6 linked regions of the Homo sapiens genome follow. The protein of the gene in region 1 interacts with the protein of each later gene in a biochemical or structural test. Each region holds a gene or a part of one and is shown in the gene's direction. Other genes may lie near its edges. The genes, in order: GIPC1, ITGA5, DOCK4, LRP1, RASSF6 and MAP2K2.

The links.
Region 2: the proteins of GIPC1 (region 1) and ITGA5 form a complex in vitro, tested with the Homo sapiens proteins (one study listed by BioGRID).
Region 3: the proteins of GIPC1 (region 1) and DOCK4 interact in a test that uses a peptide from one of them, tested with the Homo sapiens proteins (one large-scale study listed by IntAct).
Region 4: the proteins of GIPC1 (region 1) and LRP1 form a complex in vitro, tested with the Homo sapiens proteins (one study listed by BioGRID).
Region 5: the proteins of GIPC1 (region 1) and RASSF6 interact in a test that uses a peptide from one of them, tested with the Homo sapiens proteins (one large-scale study listed by IntAct).
Region 6: the proteins of GIPC1 (region 1) and MAP2K2 interact in a test that uses a peptide from one of them, tested with the Homo sapiens proteins (one large-scale study listed by IntAct).

What each region holds. Positions count from the first base shown.
Region 1 is NC_000019.10:14,486,128-14,489,627, reverse strand, and holds part of GIPC1 (PDZ domain-containing protein GIPC1), read left to right. Parts: intron 1-3,500. UniProt on the Homo sapiens protein: May be involved in G protein-linked signaling.
Region 2 is NC_000012.12:54,402,267-54,405,766, reverse strand, and holds part of ITGA5 (integrin alpha-5 precursor), read left to right. Parts: intron 1-50; coding exon 51-103; intron 104-392; coding exon 393-601; intron 602-872; coding exon 873-1,064; intron 1,065-1,193; exon of another isoform or gene 1,194-1,269; intron 1,270-1,291; coding exon 1,292-1,337; intron 1,338-1,520; coding exon 1,521-1,622; intron 1,623-1,800; coding exon 1,801-1,856; intron 1,857-1,987; coding exon 1,988-2,142; intron 2,143-2,442; coding exon 2,443-2,580; intron 2,581-2,716; coding exon 2,717-2,784; intron 2,785-3,436; coding exon 3,437-3,500.
Region 3 is NC_000007.14:111,744,900-111,748,399, reverse strand, and holds part of DOCK4 (dedicator of cytokinesis protein 4), read left to right. Parts: intron 1-956; coding exon 957-1,133; intron 1,134-1,982; coding exon 1,983-2,066; intron 2,067-3,500. UniProt on the Homo sapiens protein: Functions as a guanine nucleotide exchange factor (GEF) that promotes the exchange of GDP to GTP, converting inactive GDP-bound small GTPases into their active GTP-bound form. Involved in regulation of adherens junction between cells.
Region 4 is NC_000012.12:57,197,983-57,201,482, forward strand, and holds part of LRP1 (prolow-density lipoprotein receptor-related protein 1 preproprotein), read left to right. Parts: intron 1-173; coding exon 174-361; intron 362-482; coding exon 483-688; intron 689-1,229; coding exon 1,230-1,418; intron 1,419-1,894; coding exon 1,895-2,043; intron 2,044-2,459; coding exon 2,460-2,553; intron 2,554-2,716; coding exon 2,717-2,833; intron 2,834-3,051; coding exon 3,052-3,171; intron 3,172-3,500. UniProt on the Homo sapiens protein: Endocytic receptor involved in endocytosis and in phagocytosis of apoptotic cells. Required for early embryonic development. Involved in cellular lipid homeostasis.
Region 5 is NC_000004.12:73,578,937-73,582,436, reverse strand, and holds part of RASSF6 (ras association domain-containing protein 6), read left to right. Parts: intron 1-146; coding exon 147-248; intron 249-568; coding exon 569-620; intron 621-3,500.
Region 6 is NC_000019.10:4,100,123-4,103,622, reverse strand, and holds part of MAP2K2 (dual specificity mitogen-activated protein kinase kinase 2), read left to right. Parts: intron 1-416; exon of another isoform or gene 417-806; intron 807-1,169; coding exon 1,170-1,247; intron 1,248-2,342; coding exon 2,343-2,394; intron 2,395-2,479; coding exon 2,480-2,604; intron 2,605-3,500. UniProt on the Homo sapiens protein: Catalyzes the concomitant phosphorylation of a threonine and a tyrosine residue in a Thr-Glu-Tyr sequence located in MAP kinases. Activates the ERK1 and ERK2 MAP kinases.

The sequences.
Region 1 (3,500 bases):
AGCCATTATTTATACTCATTCCAAGGCTTCTAACATGATGATACTATTTCCTCGTATTTCCACCATTCCAATATTTTTCTGTTGTCCACTAGTCGCCATCTCCACACATTCATCTATCACAAGGTTCATAAAGGGATCAAATCCCCGCAATATTCCTTGGACATGTCTGCCACCATTTAATTTCAATGAAAACTTCTTGTCCGTAAATTTTTTCAACTCAGGAGGGTGAGCTTTGCTCATGGTGTATACTCCATGGGCTCACAGATGCCTTGGAACAGAACGCACGGCTTCCCTCACGCTACCGCGGTAGGCCCAGCATCTTGTGCCTGGCGTCATCGACCTCGTTAGCCAATCGATTGTTCGAGCATGAGTTTCAATGGGGCAAACCTTATCCAAACCATAGCAGGCTGGGTGTGGTAGCTCATGCCTATAATCCCAGCACTTTGGAAGGCCAAGGCGGGAGGATTGCTTGAGCCCAGGAGTTCAGGACCAATCTGGGCAACGTAGTGAGACCCGTCTCTACAAAAAATAAAAATTAGCTGGGCATGGCTGTGAACACCTGTAGTCTCAGCTATTCAGGAGGTTGAGACAGGAGGATTGCTTGAGCCCAGGAATTTGAGGCTGTAGTGAGCTGTGATCACATCACTCCACTGCAGCCTGGACGACAGAGTGAGACCCCATTAAAAAAAAAAAATCAGGAAAACATAGCAACCTGTTACCTCCCTGCCCTCATGTTCTCACTATCCCCCCTTCACTCACTGTTCCAACCCCCCAGGCCTCCTCACTGTTCCTCAAACATGCCAATTGCATGCCCAGTTCAGGGCTTGGCTTTTCTTTCTTTTTTTTTTTTTTGTTTAGACCGAGTCTCGCTCTGTCGCCCAGGCTGGAGTGCAATGGCGTGATCTCAGCTCACTGCAACCTCAGCCTCAGGAGTAGCTGGGATTACAAGCATGCACCACTACGCCCAGCTAATTTTTGTGTTTTTAGTAGAGATGAGGTTTGCATGCACCACCATACCTGGCTAATTTTTGTATTTTTAGTAGAGACGGGGTTTCACCATGTTGGTCAGGCTGGCCTCAAACTCCTGACCTCATGATCCGCCTGCCTTGGCCTTCCAAAGTGCTGGGATTACAGGCATGAGCCACCGCGCCTGGCTAGGGCTTTTCTTTGTTTTTTTGAGATGGAGTCTCGGTTTGTCACCCAGGCTGGAGTGCAGTGGTGTGATCTCGGCTCACTGCAACCTCCGCCTCCTGCATTCAAGTGATTCTCCCACCTCAGCTTCCCGAGTAGCTGGGATCACAGGTGTGCACCACCACGCCCACCTGTGTATTGTATTTTTAGTAGAGATGGGGTTTTGCCATGTAGGCCAGGCTGGTCTCAAACTGCTGACCTCATGTGATCCGTCAACCTCAACCTCCCAAAGTGCTGGGATTACAGGCTTGAGCCACCATGCCCAGCCCCAGCTCAGGGCCTTTCTACTGGCTGTTCTCTCTACTTGGGACGTTCTTGCCCCAAATCATTGCATGAATGCTTCCTCCTGTGGTTCAGGTCTCAAGTTCAGCTTCACGTGCTCAGAGACGCCCTCACTGATCTTGTCTATAGAACTTGTCTTGCTTTGTCTCCATATCACTATTAAAAATTATATGAGGCTGGGCACAGTGGCTCATGCCTATAATCCCAGCTCGTTAGGAGTCCATGGCAGGAGGATTACTTGAGCCCAGGAGTTTGAGACCAGCCGGGACAACATAGCAAGACCCTGTCTCTAAAAAATAAAAATAAAAAAATTAGCAGGGCATGGTGGCAAGCACCTGTGGTCCCAGCTACTCAAGAGGCTGGGGCGGGAGGATCACTTGAGCCCAGGAGGGCAAGGGTGCAGTGAGCTCTGATTGCACCACTGCACCTCAGCCTTGGCAACACAGCAAGACTCTGTCAAAAAAAAAAAGGAAAATAAAGGAAAAAATTTATATTAGACATTTACACATTTCCCTGCTCCCTGTGCATTTCCTCTTCCGGACTGTCCACTTCTGGAGGTCATGTGCAGAGCCCCAGCTAGCCTATATAGCATCTGTGAGTGAATTAGAAAGACATCTCTTCGGCCGGGTGCAGTGACTCATGCCTGTAATCCCAGCACTTTGGGAGGCTGAGGCGAGCGAATCACGAGGTCAGGAGTTCGAGACCAGCCTGGCCAACGTAGTGAAACTCCGTCTCTACTAAAAACACAAAAAAAATTAGCCGGGCATGGTGGCGTGCACCTGTAGTCCCAGCTACCTGGGAGGCTGAGGCAGGAGAATTGCTGGAACCTGGGAGGCGGAGCTTGCAGTGAGCCAAGATTGCACCACTGCACTCCAGCCTGGGCAACACAGAACAGACTCTGTCTCAAAAAAAAAAAAAGAAAGAAAGAAAAAAAAGAAAAAAAGAAAGGCATCTCTTCCTCCTGGCAGACACCACACCAAGAAATATAGCTTGGCAGGCAGTGCACAGACCGAATTTCAGTCCTACTTGCCACCTTGGTCTAGTAATTTTGCACAGTACACAACTTGTGTAACTGAACATGGTGGCCCTAGTCAGGGATCTTGCTTTTTTTATTGAAGACAGTATCTAAAATGGTGCACAGAATACAGTAAGTACTAAAAAGAAAAAAAAAATTGTTTGAAGGGAGGGGAGAATGGAGAAAGAGAGAAATAAAGAAGCGGGCCGGGCGCGGTGGCTCATGCCTGTAATCCCAGCACTTCAAGAGGCTGAGGCGGGTGGATCACTTGAGGTCAGGAGTCTTCTGTAGTCACAGCTACTTGGGAGGTTGAGGCAGGTGAATCGCTTGAACCCAGGAGGCGGAGGTTGCAGTGAGCTGAGATCGCACCACTGCACTGCTGCTTGGGTGACAGAGCAAGACTCTGTCTCAAAAAAAAAAAAAAAAAGAAAGAAAGAAAGCAAGAAAGAAACAGAAAAAAAATGTATGTGGTGTAGAAAACAACCCCAAAAGTCTTAGTGGCTGAATTCAGCAAAGATTTGCTTTTTCTTCCTGCTACACTTCCATTGCGGCTCAGCAGGGGGCACCATTCACCGTAGTCATTCAGGGCCCGGCCTCATAGAGTCGCCACCATATCAAATGTGGCTCATCACCCTGCCTGGGAAAGATAGATCTCTGGAGGCTCCAGCACTTAAATGCCTCAGCCCAGAAATGTCATGTGCCACTTCCTCTCACAACCTATTTGCCAGAAATAATCATTTATCTGCCCAGTCACAAGGAGGCCAGGAAGTGCCATCCACCTGTTTGGTCCAAAGGGGGAGAGTCAGAAATTTTTTGCACACAGTGTTAGTGACTGTGGCTGAGAGGAAAATAGAAGCGTAGTCGCTTTCAGCCTCCATTTTCTCATCTGTTCAATGGGCATAATTGTAGCATAACGTGATCCCTGTGTTACAGTGTGGTGTGAGGGTTAAGGAAGGTCACAGGCCGGGCACGGTGGCCCATACCTGTCATGCCAGAGCTTTGGGAGGCCAAA
Region 2 (3,500 bases), on another chromosome or scaffold:
GGATTGAACCTTCTAGTTCTGACCCAGCGCTGCCCCTTTGTCCTCCCCAGATGGCCTCCTACTTTGGCTATGCAGTGGCCGCCACAGACGTCAATGGGGACGGGTGAGTGGTGGGAAATGAGCGCACTGTGATACCCTCCCAGAACCAAGAGGGAAGAGTGGGAATGGGACAGAAAATGCAAGGAGAGTTTCTCCAGGGCTTTTTCTCTAGACTCTCGCTCATACCTGCATTCCCCTTGCTCAGGGACAAGGAAAGAGCTGAGAGCTGATGATCAGAGACCTCAGGTCTTCTGACGTGATGGAATTCAGAGTGTCCGGGATTTCTAGCACTAGGATTGGGGTGGGGTGGCAAGACAGGGTATCGAGATGCCTGGGTTTGCCCTTCCCCTCAGGCTGGATGACTTGCTGGTGGGGGCACCCCTGCTCATGGATCGGACCCCTGACGGGCGGCCTCAGGAGGTGGGCAGGGTCTACGTCTACCTGCAGCACCCAGCCGGCATAGAGCCCACGCCCACCCTTACCCTCACTGGCCATGATGAGTTTGGCCGATTTGGCAGCTCCTTGACCCCCCTGGGGGACCTGGACCAGGATGGCTACAATGGTGAGTACCATGGGCTCAGAGAGTGAAAGAGGAGGCAGGGGCCCAAGTCAGAAGGGATTTGGGGAGAGGGCATCTGTCAGCTAAGATACCCAGACCTCCACGACTTCCCGAGGGGTTAAAATCCCACTGTCTGGGTCTTGGGATTTGAAGATTAGAATATAGGGACTGACAGATGGGAAAAAATAGGATCCTAGGTCCTGGGGTCTGGTAGTAGAGATTAGAGCCCATGGATTCCTGGCCTGCTGACTAGTGTGTGTTCTGTGTCTTCCAGATGTGGCCATCGGGGCTCCCTTTGGTGGGGAGACCCAGCAGGGAGTAGTGTTTGTATTTCCTGGGGGCCCAGGAGGGCTGGGCTCTAAGCCTTCCCAGGTTCTGCAGCCCCTGTGGGCAGCCAGCCACACCCCAGACTTCTTTGGCTCTGCCCTTCGAGGAGGCCGAGACCTGGATGGCAATGGATATCCTGGTGAGTTGTGCCTGAGGCCCCTTTTCACCTTAAAATTCCCTGGTCACTGACCCCTACTCTCTCTTCTGCACCTTTCCTTAAGTTCCTGGGTGCAGTTCTGGCTAATTCCAACAGAGGGCGCTGTCTTCTCACTTCAACCTCCCTGAGCGTTGAAACCAGGAGGGGTTAGGAAGAAAGGATCCTGATCTGGGGCTTGCTGTAAGAGGTGATTTCTTGACTTCTTACAGATCTGATTGTGGGGTCCTTTGGTGTGGACAAGGCTGTGGTATACAGGTATGAGCTCCAAAGGGAGATGAGGGGACAACCTGGGTGGACTGGAACTGGAAATTTCTCAACAGAGCTGAGGTTGGGAAAATCAATGCAGAGGACACACATTCTGGCGCTTGGGCATCAGTTTCCTGTGTCCAGGTTACAGAGGAGTCCTAATTCTATTGACCCCACATTCACTCTTGGCAGGGGCCGCCCCATCGTGTCCGCTAGTGCCTCCCTCACCATCTTCCCCGCCATGTTCAACCCAGAGGAGCGGAGCTGCAGCTTAGAGGGGAACCCTGTGGCCTGGTGAGCTGGTGCCCAGGAAATTGCAGAGACCTGAGCCTGGGAGTGGGCAGGGGCACCAAGTCTGCCTTAAAAAGGGGAAAATGGTGGTGTCCTAGTCTGGGTCTGGCTGGGAGATAGGTAGAGGATAGGATGTCTGTTCCAGTTGGATTCACCAGCTTTCTTCTTGGTCTCTCTCCAGCATCAACCTTAGCTTCTGCCTCAATGCTTCTGGAAAACACGTTGCTGACTCCATTGGTGAGGGAGACTGCCTGGATCTCTCAGGCCCTAGGACAGAGAATGAAGGGACTGGGGACCTGGGGACATTTCTTCTCTCTGAAAAGATGAGGAAAGACAGGCAGTTTCCCTTTATATGTCCCTGGCTTCAGGTTTCACAGTGGAACTTCAGCTGGACTGGCAGAAGCAGAAGGGAGGGGTACGGCGGGCACTGTTCCTGGCCTCCAGGCAGGCAACCCTGACCCAGACCCTGCTCATCCAGAATGGGGCTCGAGAGGATTGCAGAGAGATGAAGATCTACCTCAGGGTATGGCCCAGAGGGCGGGGTGTGGACTGGCCAGGGAGGGTGGCCACACAGAACTGAGGGCACCTCCTGAAGGGAAAAAGACTGGGGGACTCCAGTGAAGGGCTTGGGACTCTTGTAGGGGCTGAGAAAGGGAGACCTTCTGTCAGAGGAGCTGGGAAGCAGGCTGCCAGGGCCTCTGAAACAATGAGGATGGTCGGAATTGGGCCCTAAGCAGACAAAGGGAGATGAGAGAGGCTGAGGAGCAGGGCCACTAAGTCTCCAGAGTCCCCTGACTCCGTGAACTCTCTCCTCTGGCCCCAGAACGAGTCAGAATTTCGAGACAAACTCTCGCCGATTCACATCGCTCTCAACTTCTCCTTGGACCCCCAAGCCCCAGTGGACAGCCACGGCCTCAGGCCAGCCCTACATTATCAGAGCAAGAGCCGGATAGAGGACAAGGTGAGGACAGGGCAGGGAGAAGGGACCTGGGAAGACAGAGGCCTGGGTATTGGGGGGGCAGGGCCATGGAAAGAGAAGAGCCTACAGCCCAGGAATGGGTCTAAACTTCCCCTCTCAAGGCTGCCCTGCTCCCCAGGCTCAGATCTTGCTGGACTGTGGAGAAGACAACATCTGTGTGCCTGACCTGCAGCTGGAAGTGTTTGGGTAAGTAGGGCTGACGGTAAGCTAGGGAGCTCCAGGTGCACCTGGCACCTGAAAAAATCAGCTAGGGACATACTAGCTGTGTCGCCTTGGGAAGTTGCTGAGCTGCTCTGAGCTTTAACTCCTTTGTCTGTATAGTGGGAATAGTAGCATTTATTTCTCAGACTTTTTGGAAAGATTAAATGAAATAATCTACATAAAAAATCTAGCCTAGTGCCTGCCATAGAGTTAGAACTCAGTAAGCAGTGTCTATTGTTACTTTATTATTACTCTTTTTTTTTTTTTGAGACGGAGTCATGCCCTTGTCACCCAGGCTGGAGTGCAGTGGCGCAATCTCGGCTCACTGCAACCTCCGCCTCCCAGGTTCAAGCGATTCTCTGCCTCAGCGTCCCAAGTAGCTGGGATTACAGGTGCCTGCCACCATGCCGGGCTAATTTTTTTATTATTATTTTTAGTAGAGACAGGGTTTCATCATCTTGGCCAGGCTTGTCTTGAACTCCTGACCTCGTGATCCACCCGCCTCAGCCTCCCAAAGTGCTGGGATTACAGGTGTGAGCCACCACACCCGGCCTCGTATTACTACTCTTATAATGGTCCTTTGTCCTGGTTTGAGGATTAATTCACCAATGTCCCTTACCCTCTGTGTCCCTTCCAGGGAGCAGAACCATGTGTACCTGGGTGACAAGAATGCCCTGAACCTCACTTTCCATGCCCAGAAT
Region 3 (3,500 bases), on another chromosome or scaffold:
CTTATATACCCTGAACACGTGCTTTTTGATGGTTACACATGTTACAAAATCTTCTATGTTCTTGCTTATCTTCCCTTCTCTTTGTCTTTGATGAATGTTCAGTCTTCATATTCTAGGATTTTTCAGTGTTGGTTTAAGATGATCCAAGTGACCTTTAAAAACTCTAATTTGTTTCCTTGCCTGAATGAACCAATATTTAAATATGCTAATTGTAGTCCTGAATTACTTGATTGCTGAGAGCTTGGCAGACCTTCTCTTCAAGGCAATAGCAGTCCCAATGACATACATTTGAAGAGCACTTTTATCATTTTCACAATTAGGTCCTCCATACAGCCTGGAATTTTTAAGTCATTATGATTCTATTTGGCTCTCCAACAAATAGATCCTGCAGTATATATTATCTTGTTTTCTATAATTCCCAACTGTGTGCCATCCTGTGCCACCTTATGGTGCTGTTATATATATATATGAGGTTCATGTGGCATATGTCCCATCTTCCCAACTGGGCTGAAAGCTCCTTGACATCAGAGGATCCATAAATGCATCTTTATATCTCCCATGGTGCTTTGTATCAAATAAGCATGAGAAAGGGGATAATATTCAGGGTCTCTGAATATTTAACCCTTCAAAAGAAAAAAAAAACTAGTTTTAAAAGACATGAGATGCTTGGATATTATTTTAAGGATTAAATTGGTTGTTGCAGTGCTAATGTAGAATTGATGATTATCCAAACCACATTTCAATGAATAAGTATAATTACCTGCCCTTTCCAAACCTTGCTAATGAACATCCCACTTGACTTCCACATCCTTGTCTATTCTACGGAATGGCCCCTGGTAGAGATATTGATGGAAGCCAAGGGGGAGCACAGATAATTCAGAACATGGATAAACTACTTTGTCTTTCTTCTTGAATGTCACAAATTCAATATATATTTATGTTCATTTGCTTCTCAGGTAGAAATGAGTCCTCTGGAAAATGCAATTGAAGTGCTAGAAAATAAGAATCAGCAGCTGAAGACTCTGATTAGTCAGTGTCAGACAAGACAGATGCAGAATATTAATCCCCTGACTATGTGCCTGAATGGAGTTATAGATGCTGCAGTTAATGGTGGCGTTTCCAGGTATCAAGAGGTAAGGATTAGGTATTGTTGTTTCAGAGAAAGTTTTCAATTGTGACTTCTTAGGGTTTCATGAATCTTTTTTCAGACTATGTACCCATATCAGCACGCAAACATAGGGCTGCGATTGACACAGAGTCCTTTGTTAAATAGAGCAAACATACAGTCATTTGTAATTGCCCAGTAACTCCATTTTCCCAACATGTTATATTTGGATAATAAAAATGTGTGTGTGTGTGTTCATTCTTGCATGAATAAAAGTAGAAAGGACATTAGGACTGTTTAATAAATATCCGTCTAAAATAATTTCTCTAAGCAAAGAAGTTCATGGGCATAGAAAAGTCTGATCTGGGCTGGGCTCAGTGGCTCACACCTGTAATCCCAGCACTTTGGTTTGAGACCAGCTTGAGCAACATAGGAAGATCTTATCTCTTATTTAAAAAAAAAAAAAAAAAAAAAAAAAAAGATAAGACCGATCTTGCTTAGATGATACTTTAAGTGGACCTTTCATCTGCTCTCTTAAACAGAAAGATATAATACCCTGGAAGGTAAGGCCACCATCTAGGTCACACTGAATCTTAAGGCAGTTTGTTTTAGGATACAAGCCATATAGCTTACTGATTTGGGCTTGTTCTTTATTTTAGCAAGGGTACTTATTGTACAATCACTGATCTTCCTTTAACAATTCTTTCCTTATGTTCCCATTCTGACCAACCACCTACACTAGTAATCAGCCCATCTGTCCCAAAATGTGGTTTGTAATGGTGTCATTTCCATAAAGATGCCAGGTCTTTAAAAACAACTTGTCTTTGACTTGCCTTGTACTCCACTAAAGTAGACTGATTCTCCTTTCCCTTACTAGGCATTCTTTGTCAAAGAATATATCTTAAGTCACCCTGAAGATGGGGAGAAAATTGCACGATTAAGAGAGCTGATGCTTGAGCAGGTAAGGGAAGCAGAAGCCAACCCCCTTCTATTTTGCCTGGATATGTGCTTGCTTACCTAGAGCCCCCTCTGCATGGTTTCCTGCATCAGTGGTCTAACAGAAGCTGGCAAGCAAGGGTGACAGATTCCTGTAATATATCCCAGCTTGCTAATTTCTACTTCTTCTTCCCACTCCGATGCAAAAATTAATTTAACAATGAGTAGACTATGGCAGCCAGTTACAGGTTGAGTATCCTTTATCCAAAATACTTGGGACCATAAGTGTTTCAGATTTTGAAATATTTGCATATACATAAGAGATATCTTGGGGGAGGGACCCAAGTCAAATAACAAAATTTATTATTTCATATATATCTTATACACATAGCCTGAAGGTCATTTTATATAATATTTTAATAATTTTGTGCATGAAGTTTCGACTGCAACCCATCACGTGAGGTTGGGTGTGGAATTTTCCACTTGTGGGATGTTGGCATTCAAAAGGCTTCAAATTTTGGAGGATTTCTGATTTTCAGTTTTTGTATTAGGGATGTTCAACCTGTGAAACAAACAACTTCATGTGGTCTCTTAAAACATTCTTTGAATGTTCTCTTCCTAGAGACTTGCTGTAGGCTTGATGCCAACTTTTTTTTTTTTTTTTTTTTTTTTTTTAAGACGGAGTCTCCCTCTGTCACCCAGGCTGGAGTGCAGTGGCATGATCTCTGCTCACTGCAAGCTCCGCCTCCTGGGTTCACGCCATTCTCCTGCCTCAGCCTCCCAAGTAGCTGGGACCACAAGTGCCCGCCACCACACCTGGCTAATTTTTTTTGCATTTTTAGTAGAGACGGGGTTTCACTGTGTTAGCCAGGATGGTCTCGATCTCCTGACCTTGTGATCCACCCGCCTCAGCCTCCCAAAGTGCTGGGATTACAGGCGTGAGCCACCGCGCCTGGCCGATGCCAACTTTTCACTCAAAATTCTGTGCTCAGAAAAGTTCAGGCCAACTCCAAATATGAGGCATGAATGAAATTTTTACTTAAGCATTGTAATAAGGAAGTGGGCAATCAGTAGATCTTGCTTTAAAGCAGTGTCATATTTTGCAAAGTAAACCTATAGGTTACATGATATGGACAAAACTACATACAACTCATCATTTTCTACCCCCAGAGAAGCGTGGTTTATTTATTTGGAACCATCAAGTACAAAGAACTGGAATGAGTAATCTGTTGCCTACTGTGTCCCTATTGATAGCCTGAAATGGTTTGAAAACCTCTGAGGTAGGAGACATGGTTGGAAGCCTGTGTTAAACAGGAAATAAAGACATTTGCTTCCTGTGAAAAGTGGAATATGTGTGATGAAACATGACAAAGGCATTTCTTTCTACCCAATAATGCCAAATTAATAAGTAAAGCATGCTCTTTGGATTAGAAAATGAGGTCGTGTCTGGTTTTCATCC
Region 4 (3,500 bases), on another chromosome or scaffold:
CACCTACACAGTGTCAGGCCCAGGACTGGGCATTTTACTTCCATGGTTCTCCCACCAGAGCTGTCAGAGGGAGCTCTACCCCATTTTACACGAGGGGAGGCTGAGCCTCACAGAGGCTTGCAGGTCCTCCCCCAGGTCACCCAGAGCTCTCCCTCCCCTGCCCCTTCCTGCAGGTCCTACACCGTACAGGCCTCAGCAACCCCGATGGGCTGGCTGTGGACTGGGTGGGTGGCAACCTGTACTGGTGCGACAAAGGCCGGGACACCATCGAGGTGTCCAAGCTCAATGGGGCCTATCGGACGGTGCTGGTCAGCTCTGGCCTCCGTGAGCCCAGGGCTCTGGTGGTGGATGTGCAGAATGGGTATGTGGCTGAGGAGGGTTGGGGGAGCCCCTGAAAGCAGCATCCAAGCCCAGCCTCCCTGCAGGCCACTGGTGCGATGGGTTACGGGATCTCCCAGGGCTCACTGCCTACCCATCGCCAGGTACCTGTACTGGACAGACTGGGGTGACCATTCACTGATCGGCCGCATCGGCATGGATGGGTCCAGCCGCAGCGTCATCGTGGACACCAAGATCACATGGCCCAATGGCCTGACGCTGGACTATGTCACTGAGCGCATCTACTGGGCCGACGCCCGCGAGGACTACATTGAATTTGCCAGCCTGGATGGCTCCAATCGCCACGTTGGTCAGTGTGCCAGTGAGGCTGTCCAGGCACAGCAGACTCAGTGGGGATGGAGGTCTGAAGCGACAGGGGATCAAGTTTTGGGGGCAAGAGTGGACATAAAAAGCGGAGGATATGGCCTGAGGACACCACTCACTGGGGTGTGGGGTTCAGAGCACCCCGGGGGCTTCCCCAGCCTGGCCACCACCCAGCTCCCTTGGGAAGGAAGAGGAGAGGCCCTTCCCTTGTATACACAGTTCTGGAGGACTGGCCCCAAGGAGGGTGGGGGTGGGAGGCCTGCGATTGAGAACTGCAGTGCTCCCCACTTCCCGAGGGGAGCCATACACTGGCAGGGCAGGAACTTGCCATGAGGCAGTCTAGGTTTGAACTCCAGCTCTGACACTTGTTAGCTGTGAGACCATGGGGGGTCTGTACCATGAACCATCTGTAACTGGGGCTGACACCCACCTCTCAGGGTGGTGGTAGGGCTTGAGGAGGTGGAGTGGGCCGGCACCCTGTCCGAGCTCCGGCTGACTGGCACTGTGCCTGCCCCTTGGCCCTGCAGTGCTGAGCCAGGACATCCCGCACATCTTTGCACTGACCCTGTTTGAGGACTACGTCTACTGGACCGACTGGGAAACAAAGTCCATTAACCGAGCCCACAAGACCACGGGCACCAACAAAACGCTCCTCATCAGCACGCTGCACCGGCCCATGGACCTGCATGTCTTCCATGCCCTGCGCCAGCCAGACGGTGAGCAGGCAAGGGGTGGGAGCAGGCGAACGGTGAGCCAGGCACCGGGGTCCCTGGGAGTTCCTGCTCATCCCTTCTCTAGCATTGACCAAGCCCTCCTGGCCAGACACTGGGAGACTCCAGGAGGGTCTAGACAGGGGATGGTCTGGCTCCCGGGAGCTTCAGCCCGGCCTGGATCCAGCCCTGGAGTCTGGCAGCAGCAAGTCCCTGAGGCCAGTCAAGTGGGGGTCTGGGTGCCCAGCCCCCAGAAGGAAGGCAGGCCGGCCCCTGGGAGGGAAGCACAGAGGAGGTGGGGAGCTGGCCTTCAGGCCTGGCCTGATCCTGGGACCTTAGAATCCTCTCCTATCTCCAGCTTCAGCTCCCTCCTAAAAGAGGCAGGGTTCAGACCCACCCGCCTCTGTCCAGGATAGAGTGAGTGAGGCAGCCTTTGGTAGGCCAGAAAATGTCACCATATTTCACGACGTTTTCTCTGGCAGTGCCCAATCACCCCTGCAAGGTCAACAATGGTGGCTGCAGCAACCTGTGCCTGCTGTCCCCCGGGGGAGGGCACAAATGTGCCTGCCCCACCAACTTCTACCTGGGCAGCGATGGGCGCACCTGTGTGTCCAACTGCACGGCTAGCCAGGTGAGGCTGTCCCCCAGACCCCATCACCAGTGCCCGCTCCCCAACCCCCAAATCCTCCTTGGACCCCAACACCTGCTCTGTCCTAATGTCCTCATGCATCTGGTTTTCCCACACTAACACCCCCACATTTCTTGCCTACCTCTTGTCTCCCCACAGCAATACTTTTACCCCCGTCACCTCACACAGACACCTCCACACCCTAACCTTGACCCTCCTTGCCATGCTTCAGTGCTGCCTTCCCCACCCTATCCCACGCAGCCCCATACCTGGCCTTTCCGAACTCACCATAGCCCAACCTGCCCCATAACACCCTGACCCCTGCCTCAACTTCTTTGAAACATCCAAGCCCCTCAAAAGAAAGACTTCTGAGTCCCCCAGACCCCCACCAACCCCTCTTGCCCCCACCTGCCCTCCAGTTTGTATGCAAGAACGACAAGTGCATCCCCTTCTGGTGGAAGTGTGACACCGAGGACGACTGCGGGGACCACTCAGACGAGCCCCCGGACTGCCGTGAGTGCCTGCTGGGGGTGACAGGAGGGCCCCCAGCTGTGTCGGAGGCCTGACTCCTGAGGCTTTGAATGGCCACTGGAGAGGCTGGGGCTGTGGTGCCCTGCAAGTGGACCTGGCCGTGTCCACCCCAGCCGCTCTGACTCTGAGCCTCCCTCTCTGGCAGCTGAGTTCAAGTGCCGGCCCGGACAGTTCCAGTGCTCCACAGGTATCTGCACAAACCCTGCCTTCATCTGCGATGGCGACAATGACTGCCAGGACAACAGTGACGAGGCCAACTGTGGTAAGGCGCTGCCCGCCCACCCTCCCTCCTTCCCCAGCATCTTCCCTGCCCCAGGATTTGGGGCTTTCAAGTGCAGGGAAGTTGCAGCCCACGGCAGCTTGCTCTCCAGGCTGGATTCCTATGGCTCAAGCCTGTGTCCTCCCTGCTGAGGGATGGGCACCCTCTCCCTGCCCCTGAGTCCTCCCTTCGCCACGAATCACCTCCTCCTCCCTCCACAGACATCCACGTCTGCTTGCCCAGTCAGTTCAAATGCACCAACACCAACCGCTGTATTCCCGGCATCTTCCGCTGCAATGGGCAGGACAACTGCGGAGATGGGGAGGATGAGAGGGACTGCCGTGAGTGTCAGAGGTGGTGGTGGGCCGGTGGTGGGAGATGACACGGAAGCAGGGCAGGCAGAATCTCCCCACAGCTTTGAGAGGCTCTCAAATAACTTTAGTAGATGGGCAACACAAATTATATTGGGTGTAACTTGCTTTGCTCATAAAAATCATCATGCATGATATAGAGACATAGAGATCCAGAAAACAAAAAGCACCAAAACTGGGGATAAACTGTTCCTTCCTCCGAAGAAGTTGCTGGCAGGACCAAGGCCAGGGCTTGGAAGAGAGAGAAGACAGTGATGGTGAACTGGAGTGGCAGGTGTAAGGGAGGGCCCTCATTCTCT
Region 5 (3,500 bases), on another chromosome or scaffold:
ACAAAGAAAAACAAACAAAAACAAAACAAATTTTTTAAATTAATGACCTTGGATTTTTTTTGCCCTATAAGAAGATTATGTTCAAGATATTGAATACCCTTAATATAATATAATTTTAAAGACTTATGTGACAATTCTTTTTCTAGACATCAATTTTCATTCCAGCCTTTGAATCAGAAACTAAGGTCAGAGTAAACAGTAACATGAGAACTGAAGAAGTAATAAAGCAACTTCTCCAAAAATTTAAGGTAACCTTTATCACTTAACTGAGCTATAAATATATTATATATAATTCAACTATAAACACACAAATCCACTCTTCTGAAACAGATCTATAAAGGTGTAAATCTAAATTGGATGTTGAGCACTGAAAGATTCTTTCCTTTGTATAACACCTTTTAGTAACTATCCCTTGAAAAATTATATAATTCCCATAAGAGCAGAGAAGATTTTATGTCTAAAAGTGAAAAATGGAAGAGAGAAAACAGACATGATTTGGGTCTGGTCAGGTTAGAAAACATCATATAACAACAAAGAATTTATATTTGTTCATTTTTTCCCTTGACAGATTGAAAATAGTCCCCAGGATTTTGCTCTTCACATTATTTTTGCAACAGGAGGTAAGAAAGCTTGATCACACTTTTTACCTGACTCTAGAGTGCTACAGTTTGCTGCCCAGGGGGAAGGCAGAAGAACAGTTTGCCTCATTCTGTGGAGAAAGGGGAGGAATGGGTAGGAGAAAAGGAAGGAGTGGTCTTTAGAACATTATCTATAGTCCACAATTTTAAAGAAAGATAACTTAAGAATAAGGTATCCCTGAAGGGTTGATTATATGAAAGAGTTTGCTTGTTGGCCAGACATTAAATTATCTAAATGGAGATCAAAACCCTCTGGAACTGTTTCGGCACTTTTGTCTTTGCTCACCTCTGTAACTTTCTTTTTGGCTTTCCTTTCTGAGTGTTGCTCTTAGAGGAGTCATGATTGCATACCTGTTCTCTCTGACATTGATATTGCCTCTTTTTTAGCACAGGGTCTGACACATTGCGGGAGTGCTATCTCTTCCTCAGTAGAGATGCATATTCAGAACTTCGTGGTGAGGGGTGAAAGGTTAGAAGCAGAACATTGGGAAGGCGCTGTAAGTGGGATGCTAGGAGCATAATAGAGAGAATAGAGAAAACTTAAAGTGATACTGAAATGAAAGTTTTTAAAACTTCACAAATGAAAAATTTTATATATCAATTTGTAGAAAAAACTCATGCTATAATTTAAGTGTCAGAATGTTCAAGCCAGAAATTTATTAGAATAAAATAATACATTTTGATGCCAGAACACCTTAAGAAAATGAAAGCTGTATCTCTAAACATATATAAAATTAAAGTTCTTATAATTGAAAGCTTAAAGATCTATAATTAAAGACTTAAACGTTAGACCTAAAACCATAAAAACCCTAGAAGAAAACCTAGGCATTACCATTCAGGACATAGGCATGGGCAAGGACTTCATGTCTAAAACACCAAAAGCAATGGCAACAAAAGCCAAAATTGACAAATGGGATCTCATTAAACTAAAGAGCTTCTGCACAGCAAAAGAAACTACCATCAGAGTGAACAGGCAACCTACAAAATGGGAGGAAATTTTCGCAACCTACTCATCTGACAAAGAGCTAATATCCAGAATCTACAATGAACTCAAACAAATTTACAAGAAAAAAACAAACAACCCCATCAAAAAGTGGGCAAAGGACATGAATAGACACTTCTCAAAAGAAGACATTTATGCAGCCAAAAAACACATGAAAAAATGCTCACCATCACTGGCCATCAGAGAAATGCAAATCAAAACCACAATGAGATACCATCTCACACCAGTTAGAATGGCAATCATTAAAAAGTCAGGAAACAACAGGTACTGGAGAGGATGTGGAGAAATAGGAACACTTTTACACTGTTTGTGGGACTGTAAACTAGTTCAACCATTGTGGAAGTCAGTGTGGCGATTCCTCAGGGATCTAGAACTAGAAATACCATTTGACCCAGCCATCCCATTACTGGGTATATACCCAAAGGACTATAAATCATGCTGCTATAAAGACACATGCACACGTATGTTTATTGCGGCATTATTCACAATAGCAAAGACTTGGAAGCAACCCAAATGTCCAACAATGATAGACTGGATTAAGAAAATGTGGCACATATACACCATGGAATACTATGCATCCATAAAAAATGATGAGTTCATGTCCTTTGTAGGGACATGGATGAAATTGGAAATCATCATTCTTAGTAAACTATCGCAAGAACAAAAAACCAAACACCGCATATTCTCACTCATAGGTGGGAATTGAACAATGAGAACACATGGACACAGGAAGGGGAACATCACACTCTGGGGACTGTTGTGGGGTCGGGGGAGGGGGGAGGGATAGCATTAGGAGATACACCTAATGCTAGATGACGAGTTAGTGGGTGCAGCACACCAGCATGGCACATGTATAGATATGTAACTAACCTGCACATTGTGCACATGTACCCTAAAACTTAAAGTATAATAATAATAAAAATAAAATAAAATAAAATAAAGATCTATTTTTTGGAAAATTCTAAGGACACATATATATTCATATTCTAGTTGTTTAGGAAAGAAAGAAAACCAAAAGATATAAAATAAATGGTAGCAATACTGGACTGTGTAACAATTTAAAAGATACAAATAGTAGATTACAAAGAATATTGTCAATGTACTCCAAAGATTAATAACTATAATACCAATAATTTCCTACAAAATGGTAACAAAACAACAGACAATCCGATAAAAATAGAAAAAAGCATGAAAATACAATTGAAAGGAAAAACCATAATAACCAGTTAAATAGTTTTAGAAAAGTCTTAAATTCAGTGAAATGCAAGTAGCTAAGGAAATGCAAGCTCAAGCCACACCGTAATATTATCTTGCACTTCTCAGATTGGCAAAATGCTTTAAAATGATTCTACCCATGGCTGGCATGCATCAGGGTAAAAAGATATTTTTATGCAACACTAGTGAAAATATGACTTTCTTCTTATTGGAATTTATTCTTGCAATATTTATTAAAATTTACAGTATATATGTCCTTTAACTTGACCATTCCATTTGTGAGAATCTATCCCACAAAAATATAAGCACTAGTGCCTACAGATTTATGTGTAACACTGTTTATAAGGACAAAAAGCTAAAGACAAAGTTACTCATCCTAGGGAAATGATTAAATAAGTGATTGTTAGGCTGCCATTGAATGGAATGAGTAGATTTATGCCAATAGAATGGAGGGAGTTCCATAATATATTTTAAGTGAGAAATGCAAGATGCCTAAAGGTATATATAAAAGATCCCATTTTTTAAACAGTTACAAGCTCCCATTTAAGTATGTGGTATATATGGTCTTATGACTAGGGAGAAAGGTATGGAGTGATAAATACAAAACCATTGAGATAGATTACCTGGTGGGGGATTGGGGAAAT
Region 6 (3,500 bases), about 10 Mb from region 1:
ATCCCAGGGAAGGCTGGGCTTTTGCAGGAGTCCTGGAGCAGCATGGTGGGGAAATCCAGGCTCCCCAGCCAGCCTCTCCAGGCTCCTCCAGCCCGCCCTCTCTAGCCTCAGTTCCACTTTCCTCTCTGCTGAGCACAGAAGAGACGCACGCCAGACGGTGGCAGTGGGAACTTGGCCTGTCACCCCTGCTGTCCTGGGGGTGGCCTGGCAGGTGTGTCCGGAGCCTCTGCCTCTGAAGAGGCACCTTGGGTGGCTCCCAGTGCCTGGGGTTTTGGCATTTGGGGGTTTTGGTCCCCAGGTTTGTTGCCAGGCAGCCTTGGGCAAGACATGGAATTTCTGTTTCATCATTTATGACATGGATGTGGGGCCACACCCGGGGACCAGCCTACCCATGATGACTCGTTTCCAGGCCCTCCGCAGGATGCCCGGCACAGTGGCGAGGAGACCACAGGCTGTGGGGAGGGGCCGAGGTTACCGTCACCTGGGCTGGCGTCACTGGGATCCCTCCTGCAGTCCATGCACCCCCTGGCCCCTGGTCCTACTCGGCCTGGCCTTTCTGCCCTAGGTGGCAGGGACAGGCGCAGGGCAGACGCCCAGCAGTGGAGCCGCAGGGCTTGGCGAGGGAGCCCCCTGGGGGTCTGGACGGGCACACAGCGACCCGCCGCCTCCTCCCACGCGGGGCAGCACCCGCGTCTCCTCCGCGCCCTCACCCTCCCCTTCCCTTCGTGTGCTGGGAAGAGGACGCAGGCCCAAGACGCTGGTCTCCAGCCTGGCCGCCTCCCGTGGCGCACAGACAAGCCCACCACGTAGGCTGCAGGGAGTGCGGGCCCCACAGCTGCCTGAGCCCCCGGCCGCGGCTTGGGCTGGCCCGGAGCAGAGCCTCTGCCGTGGCGACCTCAGGAGGGCCGAGTCACGCAACTGATTCGAGGATGGGACGGGAGGCGGGGGAACCCTGGGCCCTGTTCCTTCCCCACCTTGTGGGTGGGTGTTCAGACCCAAAGGCAGAACTGTCAGAAGACGCCCTGCCCTTGGCCCGTGGGTGGAGTTGGGCTCCGGCCCCTGCTTCCCGTCAGGAGGCAGACCACCCCCTCGCCGGGAGTGGGGGGACGCATCCGTGGCTTCCCGGCCACCTGCGCAGAGCCTGCACTCACTCCTTGTGTGCCCTCTAGGACGGCGGCTCCCTGGACCAGGTGCTGAAAGAGGCCAAGAGGATTCCCGAGGAGATCCTGGGGAAAGTCAGCATCGCGGTGAGTCCACCGCAGACCCACATCGCGCCCCCACCGCACTCTGCACGGACCTCTTCCACACGGCCAGGGTTCCGGGAGCCACTCACAGTGTGGTGGGGGTTAGGGTGGCCCCTGCAGAAAGAGAGTGGCCAAGGCTGTGCCCACCTGCTGTGGAGCTTGAACAAGTGACGTCCCTTTTGGGGCCTGAGGTCACCATCTGCCAAGTGAAGACGTTATAGGTCCCTCTTCACTCTTAGTATCCTCTGTTTGCCACACTGGTCCCCTCTGCCCCTCGTGGCAGGGGGATGTTGGCAGCTGGCACGTTGCAGGGGACAGGAGCTTGTTGAAAGGGAGACTCTGGGGTGGGATGTGGGACGCCAGGACCTCCAGACACACTCACCATTGCTGTTAGAAATGTCACCGGGGCCAAGGGCGTCTCTGCTGCCCGGTCTCCAGCACAGCTGCTCCGTAGAGCCGTGTGGTTTCAGCAGACCGTGCGTGTTGCTTCTTGGAGCTTGCACCTTGTCCATAGCAGGGGCCGAGTCCCGCCTGCCCATACCAGTGTTGGATTAAGACACAGGACGCATGCTGCCAGACACGCGTTTCCGAGTTGAAAGCTGCCGTCACACTGCCTGTGCTGCTTGCTTCACTTCTCGGGATGCTGCTTCCAGGGCGGGCCTGGGGGAAACATCGTCCTTCCCAGGCACCCTTAGCCCGTCCCATCTGGGGGCCCTTAGCACAGTCCCTGGGACCCCAGATGCTGCCTTTCAGGCTGATGTGGGCAAACTCGGCAGCCCAGCCTACTCCCGGGCCATGGGCCACCATCTCAGCTTCCCTGGGGCTAAGCCGTGTGCTCTGAATCAAAGGCAGTAGTGGCATCGGCGGCACTGCGGCCATGGGAACCGGGGTTGACTTGCACACGCCAGCACAGGGCTGTCAGCACTGTCTCGTCTCTGGCCTCGCTTGCTCCACCCCAGCGAGCTCCTCACAGCCTGAAATGGTTCCTGCCGCAGCTCCCTCGCTCCAGCTCTGACTGCTCAGCTCTGACCCCCGGGCTCGGTCAGGAGCTAAGCCCTGGTGGCCTTGTCCCGTGACTCCCTCCGCGCTCCCCTGCAGGTTCTCCGGGGCTTGGCGTACCTCCGAGAGAAGCACCAGATCATGCACCGAGGTAAGGCCCAGCCCGCCCTCCCCAGAGCCCCGGGGGCCGGCAGGCAACTGTTGGGCGCCCCTCACCCGCAGCCTGCCGCCTCCAGATGTGAAGCCCTCCAACATCCTCGTGAACTCTAGAGGGGAGATCAAGCTGTGTGACTTCGGGGTGAGCGGCCAGCTCATCGACTCCATGGCCAACTCCTTCGTGGGCACGCGCTCCTACATGGCTGTGAGTCCCCGCTGGCTCTCCCCTCCAGCTCTCCTCCCTGCTGCTCTCCCCCAAGCTCTCCCCACCCAGCTCTGCCAGCCAGCTCTCCCCCTCAGCTCTCACCCCCATGTCTCCTGCGCAGCTGTCCCTCCCAGTTCTCCTGCGCAGCTCTCCCCGCCTCCCACGAGGCTTTCCCAACTATTTCGTGGGCACACACTCCTACATGGCTGTTAGCACCCCCGGGACAGTCCCACCCCAGCTGCACCCTCCCCTTCATCAGCTCTCCCCACTTGCCACAAGGCACGTCTAAAGCTGGTGCCTCCTGGGAGCCTGCTTTTCGGATTCCCCTTGCTCTTTATTTTTTATTTGTTAATTTACTAATCTTTTGTAGACACGGGGTCTCGCTGTATTGCCCAGGCTGCTCATGAACTCCTGGACTCAAGTGACCTTCTTTCCTCAGCCTCCCAAAGTGCTGGGATTCCACTAGCAGTGAGCCTGAGCCACCACGCCCGGCCAGATCTCCCCTTCCTGTTGGAATTCTCTCTTAGGTTTTTGTCTCTAGCAGTGCCTACCAGGTTTCTTTCTTTTTTTTTTTTTTTTTTTTTTTTTTGAGACAGAGTCTTGCTCTGTCACCCAGGCTGGAGTGCAATGGCACAATCTTGGCTCATTGCAACCTCCGCCTCCCACCCGGGAGCAATTCTCCTGCCTCAGCCTTCCAAGCAGCTGGGGCTACAGGCATGTGCCACCACAGCTGGGTAATTTGGTTTTTGTTTTTGTTGTTGTTGTTGTTTTTTGAGACACAGTCTCACACTCTCACCCAGGCTGGAGTGCAGTGGCGCCATCTCCGCTCACTGCAAGCTCCGCCTCCCGGATTCACACCATTCTCCTGCCTCAGCCTCCCGAGTAGCTGGGACTAC